2 separate regions of the Homo sapiens genome follow, and region 2 is linked to region 1. Evidence: fine-mapped expression QTL. A gene starts in region 1. The other region holds a variant in brackets. All regions are shown on one strand. Distances are between the middles of the regions.

Region 1 (10,935 bases):
GGTAGATGAGCGTGGGTTAAGTTGTCACACTGGACCAATCAACTGAGCAAGATAAGTATGACTGATTAGCTCAACTGGGGGCCAGTCCCACCTCTGAGCCAATCAACACTCAATGAGCGAAGATGCGGCTGGTTAGAGTGAAGATAGGCGAATTCCCCAGGAAATGAGATCGCTTCTCTGTTCAAACAAGAGATGTCTTAGTTTGGGCTCTCCCAAAAGCCAAGCCTGAGACAGGATTTGCATGCAAGTTGTTTATTTGGGAGGCCATCCGAGGAAACATCAGCATGGGAATGGGCAGTGAGTCAGAGAAGGGAAGAAAGCTAATGAAGGGTGTTTAATTGAGTGAGTTACCTCCATGGGCAACGGAGCTTAATCCTGCTGGGGACTGCTGGGAAACAGTAGAAAACGACTTCACAGTCATCTCAATCAAAGGCTGAGGAGGCTGGAGAATTTATACCCTAACTTCTATCAGTCACTGGTTGAGGGCTTTTCCCAGTGGGGCATCAGTTCACTAGCACTTCCAGCCTACCTCATATGTAGGCAGAGGCCCAGAAGCCCAGAGAGCCCCAGGCAGAGTGGCAGGTGCTGGCCATTGGACACTGGTCCTGCCTGCTGTAAATCATTGTGCTGTACTAGGTCCTCTTAACCACCGAAAAGGAGTATGCCAAGAGGATCTGGGGCAGATACTGATAGCACCTGCTACGTGTACTGACCACTTGATGGAACCAGATTTAAAATGCAGAGCTGTCTGGTTACTTTCAGTAAGTCCTGTGGTGCCCACACTGGACCATGACTCAGCAGAGATTCTGAGCATCCAGGCAAGAGCCCAACAGGAAGGTCCTTGGCCTTGGAACTCTTGTTAGCAAGGGGAAATGTGGCAGCCAGTGGCCAAAGCTTCAAGAACTGCTCATGAGCCCTCAATCCTCTAAAAGAGAGGCCCCAAATGGAACTGAGACAACCCGCCCAGAGACGGCAAAACACTGTGTTATTGAGACCAATGATTCAGCTTTAGTGTGGGCCGGGCTGGAGGGACGAGGATACCTAGAAGCATTGGGCCCCAGTCTCAGGAATGGTGAGCCTCTCCATGACCCAGCTCATGCAGAGCCTCAGAAATCGTAGGGAGAGACCAAGGGGCACATCCCAGTTTCAGCCTCCTCGGACTGAGCTTGGAAGCATGGGTAGAGCTGGTGGAGTAGGTCTAGAGGCCTAGGAAAGGAGGCACATCATAGGGGAAGAGCATGACCATTCGTCCCAGAGGAAAAGCAAATGTCCACCCAACAGGTCAGAGAGCAACAGCCCACAGAGTGGAAGAAAATGAATGTGTGAGACATGCCAGCTGTAAATCACCATGTTTATATACATCCTCTCAAGCACTCCTCACAACAGCACCACCCGACCCCTTCCACATTCGAAAGAAAGGAAACTAAGGCTCAGAGAGAAAAAATGAGTTGACCAAGGCCACATAGTTAGGGAGCAGAAATGGGGTTTGAGCCCAGGTCTGTGTGGATTCTGCCCATCACACAACTCTTTCCCTGTTTTCCAGGTTTGCCTGTTCTCTGTCATGCCCACCTTCCACCCTTCCCACCTCCAGCTCCCTCCTGGATTTCCAGCATCCCCTGAGTCCCATCCCTCAGTAAAAGAACAGCCATGAAGCCTCCATTGAAACCTCTCACTTGATAATAAGCCCACTTTCATGATAACAAACCCACTCCCATGATAACGATGTTAATCCAACTAACCTAATTACCTCTTAAAGTCCCACCTCCCAACACTGTTGCATTGGGGGTTAAGTTTCAATACATGAGAGCATTGGGGGACACATTCCAAGCATAGCAGGGGGAGTGAGTGGGAAAAGTGGTGCATAGGTTCATCACAGATGTGTTTGGAGTTAATGAGTTCAGTGCTACGTGTGCTGAGTAAGAGCCACATGAACTATCCAGGGTCACGAGGTGGCAGCAATAGTTGGAGTCCTCAGCCCCAAGCTGGTGGTAGGAGCCACAGCCTGTGGAGAGTGCACTGAGAGAAGAGAATCCAGGAGAGCTCTGGAGAGTGCTGGCATTTTAGGAAGCAGGCAGAGGGTTACTGGCAGAGGAGAAAGCTCCAGGCCTCAATTTAAATCTTACACTTTCAGAAAGGCTTTCCCTGCTTCCTGAAACTAGGTCTGGTTCTCCATTATACATTTTCTTGGCACTGTGCTTCTCCTTTGTGACTCTATCACAATTGCATTTTTAGAGTTATTGGTGTGTGTGTGTGTGTGTGTGTGTGTGTGTGTGTGTGTGTGTTTAATGTCTTATTTCCTCCTTTGACTGTAATCTTCAAGAGGACCAGGCCCAGAGGTTGAACCATGAGAACCATGCTTACTGATTTATTTCCACTATCAGGCGCAACACGTGGCACATAGTAGGTGCTTAATGAATATTTGACGATGAGTAAATGATTCTGTTTATCAAGCATAAAGGAGCCGACAGTGTTGCCAAATCCTTGGGTATGAAGATGTTGAAGCATTACGGTGTTAAAAGCACTGGCTCTGGAGCTCAGCTACCTGAATTCCACCCCCAGCTCTCCTGATTACTGATTGTGCAAGCCCAGGCAAGTTTCTTAGCCTCTCTGGGCCTCAGTTTTCCCATCTGGAACATGGAGCCATTGGAGTTCCTACCTCATAGGGTTATTTCTATCAGTGGCCCAATCACCTATCAAATCACCAAAACCAGTGACCTATGAACCATCCTAGGTCAGCCTCCTGCCTCACATCCTACATCCAGTCAGTCCCCCAAGTCAGTCCCCCAAAGCTGCCAGCTGTATTTACCAGCTATTTCCCAAATCCAACCCTCTTGCTCATTTCTTGCCTAAATCATTGCAGTAACTTTCATACCGGTCTCACAAGCCCCTCCAGCCTCTTTTCTCAAACAGAGGAAGCTTTCTAAACATACAGTTGATCTTCATTATTCACAGATTCCGTATTGTGCATTCTCCAGCTCACCACAATTTATTCCTAAGCCAAAATCTACACTTAAGACACTTTCATGGCCATTTATAACATGCACAGAGTGGCAAAAATTTGAGTCTCCCAATGCACGTGTTCCCAGCTGTGGCTGAACAAGGTGACATTCTGCCTTCCCCTTTCAGCTCTAATGCTATAAACATGTTCTATTGGAGGTCTACTTGGTGCCATGTTTTTCTCATTTCTTGCTTTTTGCTGGGGATTTGCTGTTTGAAATGGCCCCGAGTACAGTGCTGAAGTGCCATCTAGTGTTTCTAAGCACACGAAGGCTACGATGAGCCTTATGGAAAAAATATGTGTGTTAGACAAGCTTCATTCAGTCATGAGTTATAGTGGTGTTGGCTATGAGTCCAATATTAATGAGTCAACAATATATATTAAACAAGGTGTCTTCAGAAACACACATAAAACAGACTTCTGTATTGATCAGTTGATAACCACATTGTAAACAGAAGCTTGCAGGAACCTAACCTCATATGTCCTCTAGGAAGAATGCTTCAATATTCACTAACTTGGTGCTCATGGTGACTCATAGACTATAACTACCTTGAATAATGAGAATCAAATGTACCAATCTGACCATGTCTCTTCCTTTTTCCTGCCTCAGCACAATACAAAATGTAAAAATAGAAAAAAGAAAAGAATTCCCTCATGCCTCCCTCTGCACCCAAGATAAATTCAAACTCCTTAGCATGACATTCCAGGTCCTTCATGGTCTGGAAGGTCTTTGCTGACCTTCCAGGCTCCTTGCCATGTGGTGTCCCCACCACTACCCAGCCCACTCTCCAATGCTCTTCCATTATTTTTCACAAAGGTCCTCTGCACGCTATGTGCCCACTGCCTCAAAGGCCCCTCCTCAGCATCTCTTCTTGGTAAACTCCTATACATCCTTCAAGACCCAGCTTAAATGTTACCTTCTCCGGCTCTCCCTCTGGCAGAACTTAAAACTCCCTTCTCTCTCTGTGTCTTTTCTAGGACTTCTCACAATGTTGTAACTGATCTCTTTATATGCCTCCTCTCTCCTGTACTTGGCAACAGCTTTTTGGAAAGAGCATGGAGTATAGAAATGTGTGACTCTCTGCAGGGTGTGTGCATTTCACACATCATTCATTCAATAAATATAAATTGAAGCCTAACTGGACAAGACACCAGGCACCATACTAGGCACAAGGGATAGAGCAGTGAATAAAATAAAGCCACTGCTGCATGTGTGTGCAACACTGTGCCCATAATTGTGGCCTGTGTGTAAGAGTATGCTCATGTGAAGCTACATTGTGTTTGCTTGTGGACATGAGGTGTTTGTGGCTCCTGGATGCTTTGTCTGTTGAATCCTGACCCCAAGTGACCTGCTGATACAGGGCACCTTGGAAGTCAATTAGGCCAAAAGACCGTGTCTGTGCACTAATGAGAAGCTTTCCCCAGGTGCCCCTGCCCACCTTCTCCACCTCTCCTGTGGTTCCTGCCTGGCTTGGGTTTGGCCTTTTTAACCCAAAGACAACATGCATCCAAATGAGATTTTCTCTAGTGCATACGTCTCTCTCTCCCTCCCTTCTCCTCTGCCTTCCCTGTATCTCAGAAAGAAAAGGCCTAGGAATAAGGAAAAGGAGGAGGAAGAAACATTTTTTTGAGGACATACCATGCGGCAGGCCTGTGCTGGGCAGTATACACGCATTATAGGCAATTGTAGACAGGGCTTCCCTTGTGTCAGGCACTGTTCTAAGCACTTCACCCCTAAGGCTGGGTTAATCCACGTATCCACCCTATGAGGTAGGTGTTGTTCTTTTCCCACTTTCACAGAGAAGGCAAGAAATCACACAGTGAGAAAGTGGCAGAGCTGGGATTCAGGCCTCAGCTTCTCCCACACAAGCCCACAGATGGGAGGATGAACAAGGAGTCAGAGTGGACCTGTGGCTCTCCCCTGAGAGGATACCAGGATTCGAGGCTCAGCGCCCTGGGAGGAGTGAACCCCTCAGTTTCCTGAGCCTCATCAGAAGCAGTCTGGGGAGGCTGGGGCCCAGCCAATGGCAGTGCAGGTCCCAGCTCCTCCTCCTCCCAGGCTGGGCCAGCACACCCGGCAGGCTCTGTCCTGGAAACAGGCTTCAACGGGCTTCCCCGAAAACCTTCCCCGCTTCTGGATATGAAATTCAAGCTGCTTGCTGAGTCCTATTGCCGGCTGCTGGGAGCCAGGAGAGCCCTGAGGAGTAGTCACTCAGGTAAGGGCATCTGTGTCCGCATGTGCCCTGCCCCTTGGCATACGTGGCAGGAGGACACTTCTCTGCTGGGGAGTGGTGGGATGTGGCCTGGACACATCTGCCACCCTGGGTCCTGATGGTGGAGGAATAAGGGGCTCTGGGTTCTTTCAGGTCTCCCCAGCCGGGCAAAGGTAGGAGCAGGGGCCAGGCCGGAAGCTCAGCAGGCAGGGTAGCTCTGCCTGGGCCTGCAAAGCCCTGCCCCACTCCTCCCCAAGTAGGGATGGGCTGGGTGAGAGCCCCTGGGGCTAAGGGCGGGGCCTTCCTGGGTGTTCCCTGAGAAGCTGCAGGAGTCCTACCTTAGACAGGACTGAGCATGCAAGATGGTGATTCAAAACAGAGCTCCCCCCAACCCCGGCCCCCACCTCCACCCATCCCCCGTCCAAGTGGCGCAGGTGGTGTGGAGACAGGGTGGTGGGCAAAGGTTCCCCCAGCCACCCTCATCCAGGATCCACACACAAGGGGAAGGACAGAATCCGTCTGCACACAAACAGGCAGGCAGCTCATTGAAACTTGAGGAAAGGGTCTGAGGCCTAAGGCTGGGCAGTTCCCGGAGGGTGGGCTCTAGAGCCAGCCTGCCTGGGTTCAAATCCTAGCTCTGCCACTTATTAGCTGTGTGACGTTGAGCAAGTTAATTAATCCCTCTGTGTTCCTCTTTCCTCATCTGTAAATTGGGAATAAAAAATATGCCCTTTCCTAAGGTTGCTGTGAAGGAATAATGTACTGATTCATACAAAGAACTTAGAGCGGTGCCTGGCACGGCATGAATGCTTCATGGATATTGGCTGTTATCACTACTCTGCTTTGCAGTTGATCATGCAGAGGCTCCAGAGAGCCTGGTGAGCTTCAGCCTGGACCAGCATGGGAAGGCCATCATGAGCCCTTTAGTGGCTAGGCAGACAGGTTCCTTGGGGTCCCAGGGTGCACAGTTGGTTGAAACCACAGTGCATGGGTCTTAATGGACACACCCCCATCTCCAGGAATCAGGCAGAGGACTCGCGGGTGAGGAAGTGGGGACCCCTTACTCTGCCTAGCAGTCACAGTCCTTACGCGGAGGTGAATCTGATTCTGTGAGTTCATCAGGCCAAATTCACCAGCAGAACTGACAGGAGCAGCATTTCCCACTTGATGTCTTGACAAGGCTGTTCCACAAGATGATAAATGTTATGTCAGGAGGAAAAGGGCTTCTGTGGGCAAATGAGTTTGGGCAATGCCACATATTTCATACCTCTTTTGGTGAATTTATTAGTGAGTTTATTAGCACGGTTGAGCAAAAGAACCCTATTTAACTTTACTAAACCCAATGTTTGCCAACTTTTCTTGACACAGAATCCTCTTCTCTCACTTCTCCTATTGCCAACCTATGGGACAGGGTTCCAGGGAACACTGTTTGGGAAACACTGGAATACCAGGTTACTCTAGGAAACCTACTGTATGAAGAGAATTTATTGCTGCCTGCTTTAGCTTTCAGCTGGATTGCATTGAGTGGCACTTGAGCAGGACTCTGCCTGGCTAATTACAGAGTGTTAGACCAGATGGGGGCTTGGGGACAAGGTTCCAGCCTCCTTTCCAGTCCCATCCCTGAGCCAAGAAAAGGACAAAGAGCAGGTTCCCCTGGGGAAGGGGCTGTCTGAGAAGAGGCAGCAGTGCTCAGAAAGGAGAGAACCATCTCAAGGCTCAGCCCCCCTGAGGAGGAGGGCCAGGGTTGAAACAGAGGGAGCAGGCAGAATGTCCCAGCTCCACCAGTCTTCACTCTGCAGAACCTCAAGACCAGAGCCTCAGGCCCGGGGAGGAATGAGTGGCTCCCTGGACCTGCCCTTATCCACTGGTATTGGTAAGAGCTGGGTTCTGGACTTAATTACCTATGCTCAAATCCCAGCCCTGCACCTAATAGTTGTGTAACCTTGTATATAATGCCACTAAACCTCAGCTCCCTCCCTCTACAAAATGGGGACAGTAGTAGAACCCAGCTCCTCTAGTGATGGTAAGGATGAAATGTGATGACATATTTCTACAAAGTGCTCAGAGCAAGTCTGTGATAAATGTAGGAAATGATTGTTCTTGTTTCCCTGCAGTAGCAGCTGACGCGTGGGTCCACCATGAACTGGAGTATCTTTGAGGGACTCCTGAGTGGGGTCAACAAGTACTCCACAGCCTTTGGGCGCATCTGGCTGTCTCTGGTCTTCATCTTCCGCGTGCTGGTGTACCTGGTGACGGCCGAGCGTGTGTGGAGTGATGACCACAAGGACTTCGACTGCAATACTCGCCAGCCCGGCTGCTCCAACGTCTGCTTTGATGAGTTCTTCCCTGTGTCCCATGTGCGCCTCTGGGCCCTGCAGCTTATCCTGGTGACATGCCCCTCACTGCTCGTGGTCATGCACGTGGCCTACCGGGAGGTTCAGGAGAAGAGGCACCGAGAAGCCCATGGGGAGAACAGTGGGCGCCTCTACCTGAACCCCGGCAAGAAGCGGGGTGGGCTCTGGTGGACATATGTCTGCAGCCTAGTGTTCAAGGCGAGCGTGGACATCGCCTTTCTCTATGTGTTCCACTCATTCTACCCCAAATATATCCTCCCTCCTGTGGTCAAGTGCCACGCAGATCCATGTCCCAATATAGTGGACTGCTTCATCTCCAAGCCCTCAGAGAAGAACATTTTCACCCTCTTCATGGTGGCCACAGCTGCCATCTGCATCCTGCTCAACCTCGTGGAGCTCATCTACCTGGTGAGCAAGAGATGCCACGAGTGCCTGGCAGCAAGGAAAGCTCAAGCCATGTGCACAGGTCATCACCCCCACGGTACCACCTCTTCCTGCAAACAAGACGACCTCCTTTCGGGTGACCTCATCTTTCTGGGCTCAGACAGTCATCCTCCTCTCTTACCAGACCGCCCCCGAGACCATGTGAAGAAAACCATCTTGTGAGGGGCTGCCTGGACTGGTCTGGCAGGTTGGGCCTGGATGGGGAGGCTCTAGCATCTCTCATAGGTGCAACCTGAGAGTGGGGGAGCTAAGCCATGAGGTAGGGGCAGGCAAGAGAGAGGATTCAGACGCTCTGGGAGCCAGTTCCTAGTCCTCAACTCCAGCCACCTGCCCCAGCTCGACGGCACTGGGCCAGTTCCCCCTCTGCTCTGCAGCTCGGTTTCCTTTTCTAGAATGGAAATAGTGAGGGCCAATGCCCAGGGTTGGAGGGAGGAGGGCGTTCATAGAAGAACACACATGCGGGCACCTTCATCGTGTGTGGCCCACTGTCAGAACTTAATAAAAGTCAACTCATTTGCTGGTTCCAGGTGCCCTCTGGTTGTGCGGCCTTCGTGACCCTCACACGTTCATGGTGTCAATCTCTCTGCCCCCGTGAAGAGCTGCACTTGATCCAGCCTGTGAGGGGCATCCTCTCTTCCAGAAAGGGGGCCCCCAGTACTCCAGGGGACGTGCTACTTGCTCATGCTCCCATCTAGCCTTTATCCCCCATGGCAAGTTTAGTCCTGTGGGTTGTCTGCAGAGAGAATGGAGCTTAGTCCATGTTGCAGTGGGAAGTTCATGAACTTAGAATGCCTGTGTCGAATCCAAGTTCCACCGGGACTCTGGGAAAGTAACTTAAGCTTCTCTCCAAAATGGGTTAATAATACCTAGCCTGTGGGGTTGTGCTGAGGACTGATGAGCTCATGGCTGTGGACAGGGCTAGCCAGCTGTAAAAGGACACATAAATGTTAATCATTGGTATTAGGAAGTGCTTGATAATGCCTGTGAGAAACGAGGCAGAAGGCCCCTCCCTAGCTGCACATTAACCTTCATCATCCCAGCCAGAACACAGGTCCCAGGCCCCCCACCAGCATATGTGAGGTCACACTCCAGCCTCCCTGGAGGCCTTCCCCAGGACCCACAGAGGATGGACAGCGATGCTGTGCCTGGCCCTGTGCTAACTGGGGCATTTCATGCTGCTGACCTGCATTCCTTGCCTCCACCAAGGCTATGGGTGCCCTGGTCTAGAAAAGTCATAGTTGACCCCTCCCATTTCCTACACAATCCAAGAGCTTCCAGACTCCAGTCCCAGAAATATCCCACCACCAGAATGGGATGCGTTCCTGCACTAAATTAAGGTTGCCCCTTTCCGTAGATGTCAGCTGCTGAGACCTCAGTATCAGGCTTCCCAGGAAAAGGGCAGGAGAGAGGGCAAGGAGGCAGGGTAAGGAGGCAATGGGAAGGGGACAGGGTCAATCCCACTGGTGCTGTCCTAGGCCTAGGCATAATGATATCAGGCTCCTGAACCCCACACAGCAGTCTCACCCACATACCTGCCTGCCTGGGAGCCAGGCTCAGCCATACCCAGCCAGGCTAGAGAGGAGGCGTGGGCCAGGAGAGAAGAGCCGCAGGTGTTTGCTCTGAGTATGTGCCCGGGGAAGTCCGCCCTCCTGCCTGCCCACCCAATCACTCTCGCTTGGCTCATTGGCCCAGAAAGCCCCACCCAGCAAGGGAGAGAGGAACAAAAGCTGCCTCCGGGAGGTCCTGAGGCAAACAGACAAGCCCAAGGACAAGGAAGCAGCTACTGGACCCAAGAAGGGTGAGGACCGAATAGGGCAGGAGGCTGGCCAGGAAGCAAGCAACCAGCTGAGCTGAGGATATCCAAGGGACCTCAGGCTGTGGGCTGGGCTTCAGGGAGGGAGCCAGAGGGTCAGTGTCCCTAGAGGATCCCCAGGGAAGTGCCAAGGAGGAGAAGGAATGTCCTGGCTGACCTAAGGGACGACAGAAGATTGGGGAAGAGGGGGTATCAGGAAGAAATGGGTTTCAGTTCAGTTTAACAAACATCTATTGTGTGTTCACTGGGCCAGGCCAGTGCTAGGTGCTAGGGAGACAGAGGTGAAGAGCCTGCCCTCTAGCAGCTGACAGCCTGGCAAAAAAATAAGACAGGTAAATAGACCATTTGGGTACAGGCGATGCCTCTTGCTCTGAAAGTGTCCCAGGCACACGATGTCTGAAGAGGCTGAGAGCAGAGTCAGGGATTGGGGATGGGGAAGGAGGAGGGTAGGAGGAGGGGAGGGTTGGACATGGGGCCTGATGGGGACTCCAGACAAGGGGGTGTGGAGGTCAGAGTCCACAGGAGAGGGGCCTGAGAGGAAATAATGGAAATGCGGCTAGCAAACAGCCACTAAATGGACAGAGGAGGGGGTGCCCCCAGAGAAAGTAAATGGGGGGTCCAGACCATGCCAGAATCCATCCTCAGTCCTTCCTAAAGCTGGAATGGTTGGAATTCCAGAGGAACCCACTGTGGTCAAGACAGTCAGCCCTCAGGCCCCAGCACCAGTACACGGGTTGGCAGGGATGATATCAAGTCCCCGTGATTCCAAAGCACCTCTGTTTAGTTTGGGAGGGAATGCCAGGGCTGAGAACCTTCCTGGAGCCAGAGGCAAGGAGTAAGGATGCAGATTGTTCTGGGATTTACCAAGGGGCTGATGTGAACGTCCCCAACACGGGGCCAGGCTCTTGTTGGTGTTCAGTAAAAGTGGGATGGATCTGACAACTGATAAGGATACGTTCCCACCCCTCCTGCCCTGGCCCAGCCCTGGCAGCTGATGGGAGAGCAGATCGTCCAATTCAAGCCTTCCTACGGTCTCTTTAGAAGACATGGGCTGAAACTTGGGGTAATAGAGGTTGGCTGGCATATCCATGCAGGATGATTGTCTTCACATGT
Region 2 (10,935 bases), 44 kb after region 1:
CCTTCAGCTCCTAAAACCCCTTCCACTACCCAGCCCCTGCAGGCTCAAAGATTAGAGTGAAGCCAGCTGGGTAAGATATGAGGCGGGGAGCAGGGACCTGAGGCTTTGAGCCCCCTAAGAAGCAGAAGATAACACCTCTACCATCATCACTAGCTCCCACTGTCTGGGGGTAGCCAGCCTTGGGCAAAAGGGAGGAAGGGCTTAGCCCAGCTGCACAACTTTGGATAAGTTCCTCAAATTCTGTTCCCATAGGCAAAGGAGCCTCAACTCCACCCAGATTTCCTTGGCCTGTGTCCATCCTGGGGCAGTGGCTCGGGGACAAGAGGGACATAGATGTCTGATTAGGCAGGGACCTTAGCCAAAGCAGAATGAGACCATACAAAGAGGTGGGCAGCCATCATCCAAAAATCTGGGTTGGGTCCTGCCTGCACTGCTGAGTGGGAGCCTCCAGGCCAGTCCTTCCCCTTCCTGAGCCTGGGTTTCTTTGTAGGTAGAACGGGCGTGGCAGACCTCCCTGCAGGCTTGTTGCTGGGCGAACGAGAAGGATGCCATGCTGACACACTGACGTGCTCTGTCTCCTTGCAGACGGAGGCCCGGGAGCCATGGGTGACTGGGGCTTCCTGGAGAAGTTGCTGGACCAGGTCCAGGAGCACTCGACCGTGGTGGGTAAGATCTGGCTGACGGTGCTCTTCATCTTCCGCATCCTCATCCTGGGCCTGGCCGGCGAGTCAGTGTGGGGTGACGAGCAATCAGATTTCGAGTGTAACACGGCCCAGCCAGGCTGCACCAACGTCTGCTATGACCAGGCCTTCCCCATCTCCCACATCCGCTACTGGGTGCTGCAGTTCCTCTTCGTCAGCACACCCACCCTGGTCTACCTGGGCCATGTCATTTACCTGTCTCGGCGAGAAGAGCGGCTGCGGCAGAAGGAGGGGGAGCTGCGGGCACTGCCGGCCAAGGACCCACAGGTGGAGCGGGCGCTGGCGGCCGTAGAGCGTCAGATGGCCAAGATCTCGGTGGCAGAAGATGGTCGCCTGCGCATCCGCGGAGCACTGATGGGCACCTATGTCGCCAGTGTGCTCTGCAAGAGTGTGCTAGAGGCAGGCTTCCTCTATGGCCAGTGGCGCCTGTACGGCTGGACCATGGAGCCCGTGTTTGTGTGCCAGCGAGCACCCTGCCCCTACCTCGTGGACTGCTTTGTCTCTCGCCCCACGGAGAAGACCATCTTCATCATCTTCATGTTGGTGGTTGGACTCATCTCCCTGGTGCTTAACCTGCTGGAGTTGGTGCACCTGCTGTGTCGCTGCCTCAGCCGGGGGATGAGGGCACGGCAAGGCCAAGACGCACCCCCGACCCAGGGCACCTCCTCAGACCCTTACACGGACCAGGTCTTCTTCTACCTCCCCGTGGGCCAGGGGCCCTCATCCCCACCATGCCCCACCTACAATGGGCTCTCATCCAGTGAGCAGAACTGGGCCAACCTGACCACAGAGGAGAGGCTGGCGTCTTCCAGGCCCCCTCTCTTCCTGGACCCACCCCCTCAGAATGGCCAAAAACCCCCAAGTCGTCCCAGCAGCTCTGCTTCTAAGAAGCAGTATGTATAGAGGCCTGTGGCTTATGTCACCCAACAGAGGGGTCCTGAGAAGTCTGGCTGCCTGGGATGCCCCCTGCCCCCTCCTGGAAGGCTCTGCAGAGATGACTGGGCTGGGGAAGCAGGTGCTTGCTGGCCATGGAGCCTCATTGCAAGTTGTTCTTGAACACCTGAGGCCTTCCTGGTGCCCACCAGGCACTACGGCTTCCTCTCCAGAATGTGGCTTTGCCTGAGCACAGACAGAGTCAGCATGGAATGCTCTTGGCCAAGGGTACTGGGGGCCCTCTGGCCTTTTGCAGCTGATCCAGAGGAACCCAGAGCCAACTTACCCCAACCTCACCCTATGGAACAGTCACCTGTGCGCAGGTTGTCCTCAAACCCTCTCCTCACAGGAAAAGGCGGATTGAGGCTGCTGGGTCAGCCTTGATCGCACAGACAGAGCTTGTGCCGGATTTGGCCCTGTCAAGGGGACTGGTGCCTTGTTTTCATCACTCCTTCCTAGTTCTACTGTTCAAGCTTCTGAAATAAACAGGACTTGATCACAAGTAGGTGTGTATTGATGCTATCATGATGTGCTGGGGGTTGGGGGATAGAGTTATTTTGCCCAGGCTTCCTTTACTTCTTGGTCCTGTATAATCTCTTTGGTCTCTATAACCCCCGATTCCAGCCAACACCTTGAACCCTCAAACTCATACCTTCTGCCTCCAACAGCCCTGATTTCTAAATGCTCTGCCTTTTGAAATGCCTCAGACACTATCTTCTTTTCATCCCCACTGCTCCAGCGCATTAATCAGTGGTCAAAGCATAAACGTCCTTGCCCTCCCTCCCCCATGCCCATCGTCGCCCTGGCCACACTGCCCCCTGCAAAGTGCTTCCTTACTGGATGGTTTGCTCTCCAAGCGTGCCTGCCAGCCAAGCCCTTCGCAGTCCAGTTCAGATGGGCCCTGCACTCATCCCACCTCATCCTCATCCTTGGTATTTGGGAAGGGAGGTTTAGGTCACTAGTCCTTCCTACCTTGGCCCTTTCTAGTCTGCCCACCAGGAGAAGCAACTGAAGGATTTGCTTCATATCTGCTCTCCATGCACCCAGACCTCAGTGAGGACAATGGCAATGTACAGAAGTGGAAGAGACTGAATCTTGCCAATGAGCCACAAAGGCTGCAGAAACAAAATGAACAATTGAACTGGGTCTTGACTAGGAGTTCACTGGGGAGGGAAAGAGAACACTGAGCATTCAAGCGGAGAAAACTGTTTGTGCAAAGTCAGAGGAGGGATTGACAGGCTGAGGGGGCATTTAGGTCCTGATGAGCCACCTAGATACAGGAGGCGTGGCTGAGGATGGGCCCACTGCTGGCAGAATTGACCTATGTGGAGGCGACCCAGGTAGGGGAGAGCACTAGGTAGTGACCCTCAGAGGCAAGCTGGTTGTCCTCCCTTCCCAGGGACATCTGGGGCTAGGGTTGAAGAAGGAAAGGGGGTCTCTCTGATGTGGCCACATGCTTCTCCTTGAGAGCCACAATGCCTTCACAGCAGGTTGGCAAGTTGGCCCCTCTCCCATCAGGATGGGTGTTGAAAACACCAGCTCTGTACCCCTCATCCAGAGCTCATTCGCTCACTCGCTGCTTACCCAGCGAGTCTGAATGCTCAGCCTAATAAATTACGACCCTCTTCCTTTTCCAGCTGTGGTTCCCATTGTTCCCTCTGAATCGCTGAAATCGATCAGGCCAGCTTCCTCATGGCTCCCAGATTCACCCAGTATGTTCCCACCCTGCCCCTGTGTCAGCATGCAGCGTCCCTGCCCCCCACACTTCGAAACTCCACAAATCCTTTAAATACTACTGGACCCTGGAAAAGGGCTTGGTGCGGAAGAGTGAGATGAGCTTATCACCAGAGGGCCCTGAATTTAAATGCTGTGGTCTGGAGTCAATCATTTCGCTTCTCTGAGTCTCAGTTTTCTAACCTCTAAAATGCAAATAACATCACCTGCCTCACAACTGACTGGAAACCAAATAAGTGAAAGTATGTGACTGTGCCTGGCTCAGTAGTCATGCAGTAAAATTAAGCTCACACCTTTCAGCCAGACTAACATAGGCTCTTCCTCCAGGAAGCGCTCTCTGACTTCTCCAGCTAGTCTCCGGCAATGACCTCTACCTCTCAGGGATCTGAACCACTGCTTGATTGAGTGAGGCTGGGCTCAATCCTGAAAGCCTCAAAAAGGAGGCTGTTCACATACTGGAAGTCCATGACCACTGGAAGTTGAGGTCCCTGTCTAAGAGATTCTCCTCCAGCCAGGGTGAGAGGCCAGAGGCTGCAGGTTAGAAGCCAGCGTTAGAGCCAGCATTACCTGAGGGGCTTCAGAGCCCTGGTTTGGTGTTTCTGTTATCCCCAACCTTTCCTACTTTGGAAAGGTAGGAGAAGAAAGGTTTCAGTGAGCAGAAATGGCATCCTTCCCCTCCCTCAAAGCTCACCCACTCTGAGCTTGGTGTCAGAGCCGGGGTCAGGCTGGGGCTCAGGAACTTGGACCTTTGGCAAGACAAGTTGGGTCCTAGACTGGCGGCCACACAAACACAAGCACATATGGGCTGGGGGTTTAAGAGTGAGGACAGTGTCATGGGGCTGGGATCACACCATTTGGGTTGGGGGTATGGTGAAGACTTTATGGAGAGAAGAGTGGCTGTAAGCCCCATCCCACCTGTATTCCCTTGCCAAGGCTACTGTACCAAAGTACCACAGACTGCACGGCTTAAGCAACAGAAACTGATTCTCAGTTCTGAAGGCCAGAAGTCTGAGATCGAGATATCCGAAGGGCTGGTTCCTTCCGAGGGCTGTGAGGGAGACTGTTCCAGGCCTCTCTCCCAGCTCTGGTGTTTTGCTGGCAATCTTTGGCACTCCTTGGCTTTTAGACGCATCACTCCCATCTCTGCCTTCATCTTCACCTGGTGTTCTCCCTTTACCTGTGTCTCTGTGTCTAAATTTCCCCTCTTTATAAGGACATCACTCATATTGGATTAGGACCCACCCTAATGACTTTGATCTAACTTGATTACCTCTGAAAAGACCTTATTTCCACATAAGGTTACATTCTGAGGCATTAGGGGTTAAAACTTCAATATATCTGGCAGGAGGCACCATTCAACCCATACCACCACCCTCGTGGCCCCACCTCACCTCCAAGCACTGGTCAGGCACGGGGCTCTGGAGAATGCTAGGTTTGTTGGACGCAGGCATCTCCTTGGTGATGTCACTAGGATGAAACAC[G/A]GCAGGTTCACACCTTTCTTTTCCTTTGTTTCCTTCTTCCTCTCACCAGCCTATCCCTTGCTGCCACCAACCAAAATCTAAGTTGACAGCTAGTGGCTCTCAGTTAGAGAAAGAGCCATCGTTTGGAGTTAGGAGACTTGGCTCCTACCTCACACCTCTCATACGCACTTGACTATGGCTCTTTCCCTTCTCTAGGCCTCAATTTCCCCATTGTGAAATGAAAGGGTTGGATGAGAAACACGTATGTGACAATTAGGTATGAGGAGCGTTGCGTGTGGTAACCTGTCACTGATCATTGATCTGAAACTCATGAGTGATGTGCTATTTCGCATGAATCAGAAAAAAGTCAAGGTTGTTTCTACAATAAGATTAATTCCAGTCGCTTAAATTCACATTGCCTTCCTAAGTAGGAAAGACAGGGATGGGGTTATGTGGAGTGCACTGGGAATTTTGCATAACCCAAGGTCATCTTATCTATGACGGATGGGAGCATGAGAACATCACGGGCTGCACATAAACAAGGCTGTCAAGCTGGGTGATGTCAAAACTTCTTCCCAGTCTAACATGCTGGCTCACTGGCCACTGGCTTGCCAGCCTCATGGTTCTATCACCTCCAGTTCCTTGACTGGGGATTCTTCGTTTTCACACCAACCTCAGCATGACTATTGACGTTTGCAGGAAGAGGTATCCATCACAGGATTGTCAGAACATCTCTCTCCACCTTTAAGAATCTCTCTCCAGACTTGGCTCTGATCCCAGAGCCACAGGACACCCAGTTCTGTCCTTCCCAAACAGTACTGCAGCCACATACAGACAGCCACCAGGTTCAGCCTGAGCCTGCTCTCCTCCTATTCCTCCAGATAATCCTGATTTCCAGAAGTCTCTGGCCAACCTGCAATTTGTTTACTTTCCTCTTTTTTTTTTTTTTTTTTTTTTTTTGAGACGAAGTCTCCCTCTGTTGCCCAGGCTGGAGTGCAGTGGCAGGATCTTGGCTCACTGTAATCTCTGCCTCCTGGGTTCAAGCAATTCTTGTGCCTCAGCCTCCCCAGTAGCTAGGATTACAGGTGTGAACCACCACGCCTGGCTAATTTTTGTATTTTTAGTAGAGATGGGGTTTCACCATGTTGACTAGGCTGGTCTCAAACTCCTGACCTCAGGTGATCCACCTGCCTCGGCCTCCCAAAGTGCTGGGATTACAGGCGTGAGCCACCATGCCTGGCCTAATTTCCTCTTAACATATGCCACCCTCCCTGTATGCTGGATACGACACTCCAGTTGGTCCGAATCCAGATTATTGCCTCTCTTGCCCCAAAACTTCTACCTCTCTTAATGCAACCTAAGATTATAATTTTTTTTATTTTCTCCTCCTTTACATATATATAAATTCTTTTGAATTATAAAGATAATGCATGATCATTGTAGACAGTGAATGAGATCCTACCATCCAGAGGCAACAACTGTTAATATTCAGAAGTAATTCCCTCCAGCCTTCTTCCATGCATATTTTAAAATAAAATCTTAGTAAAGATATACCTACAATTTTATATTATGCTTTTTTCATTTTATGATAAATCATTAGTTTTTTCCCATGTCGTTAAGAACATATTTTTGGAAATACCACTTAAAGGCTTTATCAGTGCCTACTTAAACCATGACCCTGATATTGGATTTTTAGGATGTTTGCAACTAATCATCCTCTACTATAAATGGTACTGTGATGCAGATGTCTGTACCTAAATGTTTTCCAAATTTCTATTTCCTTAAAAGAAAAAGATATTCCAAGAAGTAAAATTACTGGGTCACAAAGTAGGAAATCTTAAATAAAGAAAATTTAGGGGCTTTTATCTGATTGTGAAAGTGATTCATTGTGGGTGACTCAGAAACACAGAAAAGCACAAATTACAAGAAATGAAAGCACAAACTGCCTCTGAGTGGGAATTGGGGTGGAGCTGAAAACAGGAGAGTTCATTGAAAGCACCTCGGCCTGGGGATTCCATCCCTGCACTGAGCAGCTAGGTGACCACATCTTCCCAACTCTGTGAAGAGGTGGAGGTTTATTCTCTGGAGAGGATAAAACAGAGAAATGCAGCCAGGTGCAGTGGCTCACGCCTGTAATCCCAGGCGGGAGGCGGAGGCGGGCGGATGTCTTGAGGTCAGGAGTTCGAGACCAGCCTGGCCAACATGGCGAAACCCCATCTCCACTAAAAATAGAAAAACTAGCCAGGTGTGGTGGTGTGCACCTGTATTCCCAGCTACTCGCACTCCAGCCTGGGTAACAGAGCGAGACCCTGTCTCAAAAAAAAAAAAAAAAAAAAATCGAGAAATGCCAGGCATAATTGAGGGTAGGAGCACCATAAATAAAACAGAGGAATTAAGTGGAAGTTTACATACTGAACAGTGGGTCCTTCTGCCTTCTCCCCAAAATTGGCTTCCAAAACACTGGCTGATGGATCAGGCTTTGAAAAAAAAAAAGAGAGAGAGAATCTGATCTAGCCTGAGGTCATAGAAGCCTGCCTGCAGGAGGTGGGCTTCAGAAAGCCTAAAACGTGAGAAGGAATGAGCTAGGAAGAGATGGGGAAGAGCATTCCAGGTAGACGGAATAGCACTTTCAAGGCTCTGAAGAAGGAGGAAGGGGCTTGATATATTTGTTGTTCAGGGTTGTTTTTGATACAGACTGCCAAGCTGCTTTCCAGAAAAAAAAATTACTTATTCGTTCAATAGCATTGTATGAAAGTGCTCATTTCAAGGTATGCATACAAGCATTATTGTAATTTTTAAATTGCTTTGCCTATTATTAATTATTAAACAGGGAAAAAATGGTATCACGTTTCATGAGGGAGGCCTGATTACTAGTGAGTGTAGACTTCTATGTGTGTGTGTGTGTGTGGCAGGTCTTACTCTGTTTCCCAGACTGGAGTGCCGTGGTACAATCTCAACTCACTACAACCTCCATCTCCCAGGCTTAAGCAATTCTTGTGCCTCAGCATCCCTAGTAGCTGGGATTACAGGTGCGTGCCACCATGCCGGGCTAATTTTTGCATTTTCTTGTAGAGATGGGGTTTCACCATGTAGCCTAGGCTGGTCTCAAACTCCTGGACTCAAGCAATCCACCCGCCTCGGCCTCCCAAAGTGCTGGGATTACAGGCATAAGCCACCATGCCTGGCTAGTGAGGGTAGATTTTTTAACGTATACTTCTTCAGCACTTATGTTTGTTCTATGAATGTTTTTTGCCCATTTTTCTATCAGGTTTTACTATTTTCTGATCAACTTGTATAAACTCTTTATAGGTAGAGGATATCAACCCTTCATCTGGCATATGTTATAAAAATTTTTCTGTATTATTTTGTTCCTTTGTCTGCAGATATTTTTAATTTCTATGTAGTCAAATTTATGGACTTTTTTCCTTTCCAGTAACTTTAGGCTTACACTGTTATCCCCTTTTCAATATTATTTTTAATTTTATACTTTAACCTGGCTTGAACATAATAGGAGAAAAATAATTATTGAACAAAAGACAAAGCATGAACAAACAACCTAATTTTAGCATATAAGGTGAAGTGCTAACTTTTCCCCCCAAATAATCAATGGTTTTGGCAGCACTTATTGGATAATCCTTCCTATACTAATTTGTGATAACAGCTTCACTATACTATATGTAACAGACTACATTTTATAGACTACCTATAATTCTGTTCCATTAATCTGTCAATTTATGTGATACTACCACTCTTTTCATTAGTGTAGCTTTCTAACACAATCTTTTCGGGGTTTGGTTTGGTTTGGTTTGGTTTGGTTTGGTTTGGTTTGGTTTGGTTTGGTTTGGTTTGGTTTGGTTTGGTTTGGTTTGGTTTGGTTTGGTTTGGTTTGGTTTGGTTTGGTTTGGTTTGGTTTGGTTTGGTTTGGTTTGGTTTGGTTTGGTTTGGTTTGGTTTGGTTTGGTTTGGTTTGGTTTGGTTTGGTTTGGTTTGGTTTGGTTTGGTTTGGTTTCGAGATAGGATCTAGCTCTGTTGCCCAGGCTGGAGTGCAGTGGTGCGATCTTGGCTCACTGCAGTCTCCACCTCCTGTACTCAAGCCATCCTCCCACCTCAACCTCCCCAGTAGCTGGAACCACAGGCACACACCACTATGCATGGCTAATTTTTGTATTTTTGTGTGGAGACGGGGGTCTCACTATGCTGCCCAGGCTGGTCTCGAACAACTGAGCTCAAGCAATCACCCATCTCGGCCTCCCAAAGTGCTGGGATTACAGGCATGAGCCACCACACCCTGCATGTAATACAGTTTTAGTATCTGGTAGAATCCATTTCCCTTTTGTTACTTATACTTTTCTTGAGAATCCTGGAAGCCAGGTATGTATTTTCTATGCAAGTGTTTGGAAGAGTGTTGCCAGTGGATCTGACAGATCCAAAGGAAAAAACCTAAAGATATGGGCACCAGGGGCTGTCCAAGGAAATAGACAGCTAGATGGCCACACAATGAAAATCACAGTAAGGAAGTCCTAATCATGCATACAGATCGTCCAAACAGCTTTTTTTTTCTCCATTAAGTTGGGTTTTTATTTGCCTACTGCAATGGTTAGAGTGTCCAAAACAAATGTTTTGTTTGTATTTGTTGAACAGAGTTTATCTTCTAAATATTCAAAAATACTCTTCTAGAATATTTTTAGGTTCACAGCAAAACTGAGCAGAAGATAAAGAGATTTTCCTTATATCCTCTGCCCACTTCCCACATGCACAGCCTCCTCACTGTCAACATCCCCCACCAGAGAGGTACATTTGTTACACTTGATGAACCTACATTGATACATCATTATCACCCAAAGTCCACAGTTTACAGTAGGGTTCTCTTTTGGTCAGACAGCGTTTTAGTGACCCTCTTTTAAATATGAGCACATGGGTGAGGATCCCAGGCATTTGAGAAAACCATCTTATATGAAAGAGTCTAAAATAATCAGAATAAAGCTTTCCAGAGAAAAGAGAGATTATGCATGGAGAATAAAATATTTTTAAAACTAATATTACTTTATTCAGAAAGATTTTATCACATCTTTCTGATATGATAAAGAGGGTATTGCAGCCATGAAATAAGACAATACTCTAAGAAACAGCTACATAGAGAACAACAATGACAAAACCAAGGTATTGGAAAGTAAAAGTATGACAGCAGAATTGAAAACTTCAATAGAAAGGCTGGAAGATAGTTAAGCAATTCCCCAGAAACTAGAATAAAATACAAAGATACAAACAGTAGAAAATATAAAAAATGATTTGAGGACAAGTCCAGAAGGTCTAACGGAAGCTTCGGAAAAGAGGAGTAGAAAAAATAGGAATGTAAATAATCAAAGGAAATTCAATAATCTCTAGATTGAGAGAGCCACTGAGTGCCCAGCCCAATGGATGAGTATAGGTCCACTCTACTGAAAACTTTCAGAACGCCAGAGACAAAGAGATGAGCCTACAAGTTTCCAGAGAAGAACATAGTTTCACACATAGGCTCAAGAATCGGAGTGACCTCAGACTTTGCAGTAACAATACTGGAAGCTACAAGACAGTGGAACAATGCCTTCAAAATCCTGAGGAAAACAATTTTCAATGTGGAATCCTATACTCAGGCCTGCAATCATTTTAATAGCATAATTCCTTGAAAGTTTGGATACGTTACTTGCCTGTAAAGCCAACTGGATTCAGTGTCTTTCTTATATGTCATTCTTCAAAAACTTTTTCACTGTCTTCAGCAACTAGTTATCTATTCAAATTCTCTTTGTCATAAATCTCTCTTAGTAATTTAGACTTCTTCACAAAAAAAAATGCTTATTTGAATTAAGTATTCAGGCATCCTTATCTCATCACACCACATATTCTCATTTTAATTAAATTTTTACCAAAAGCTCTAAGTAAAATTGTTCCTTGACATCTGTGTATGCCATGTGAAGATGTTTTATAACTAAGGTTATGCTAGTTTTATAGTAAATTGGAAATATTTCCAACTAAAATCCCTGAGCCTTTTATAAGTGGGATGCCACTAAGCTATTACTAAATATGAGTTTATGTAATTGGGAATTTGGGCAATGAAAGTGACAAATATGA

Alleles and levels. Positions count from the first base shown, and alleles are read on the strand shown. Sizes are in standard deviations (SD) of each study's normalised expression.
As copies of G replace A in region 2, the expression in testis of the gene that starts at base 5,066 in region 1 goes down (moderate effect, 0.69 SD a copy in GTEx).

What was found.
Region 2: its variant is fine-mapped to the expression of GJB5 in testis (GTEx, PIP 0.99). The same link has a PIP of 0.9 or more in fibroblasts.

The regions. Positions count from the first base shown.
Region 1 is chr1:34,749,982-34,760,916 of GRCh38, forward strand. GJB5 (gap junction protein beta 5) reads left to right here and starts at 5,066. Exons shown (of 2, transcript NM_005268.4): 1 at 5,066-5,214; 2 at 7,326-8,531. The coding sequence starts at 7,350. The coding sequence ends at 8,171. GJB4 (gap junction protein beta 4) reads left to right here and starts at 9,759. Exons shown (of 2, transcript NM_153212.3): 1 at 9,759-9,807.
Region 2 is chr1:34,793,612-34,804,546 of GRCh38, forward strand. GJA4 (gap junction protein alpha 4) reads left to right here. Exons shown (of 2, transcript NM_002060.3): 2 at 586-2,136. The coding sequence starts at 603. The coding sequence ends at 1,604. Among named protein-coding and RNA genes, the nearest start is that of GJA4, 6.1 kb to the left of the region's middle. RefSeq lists a silencer at 651-805 and an enhancer at 6,674-6,723. The variant G/A (reference allele first, on the strand shown) is at 4,850.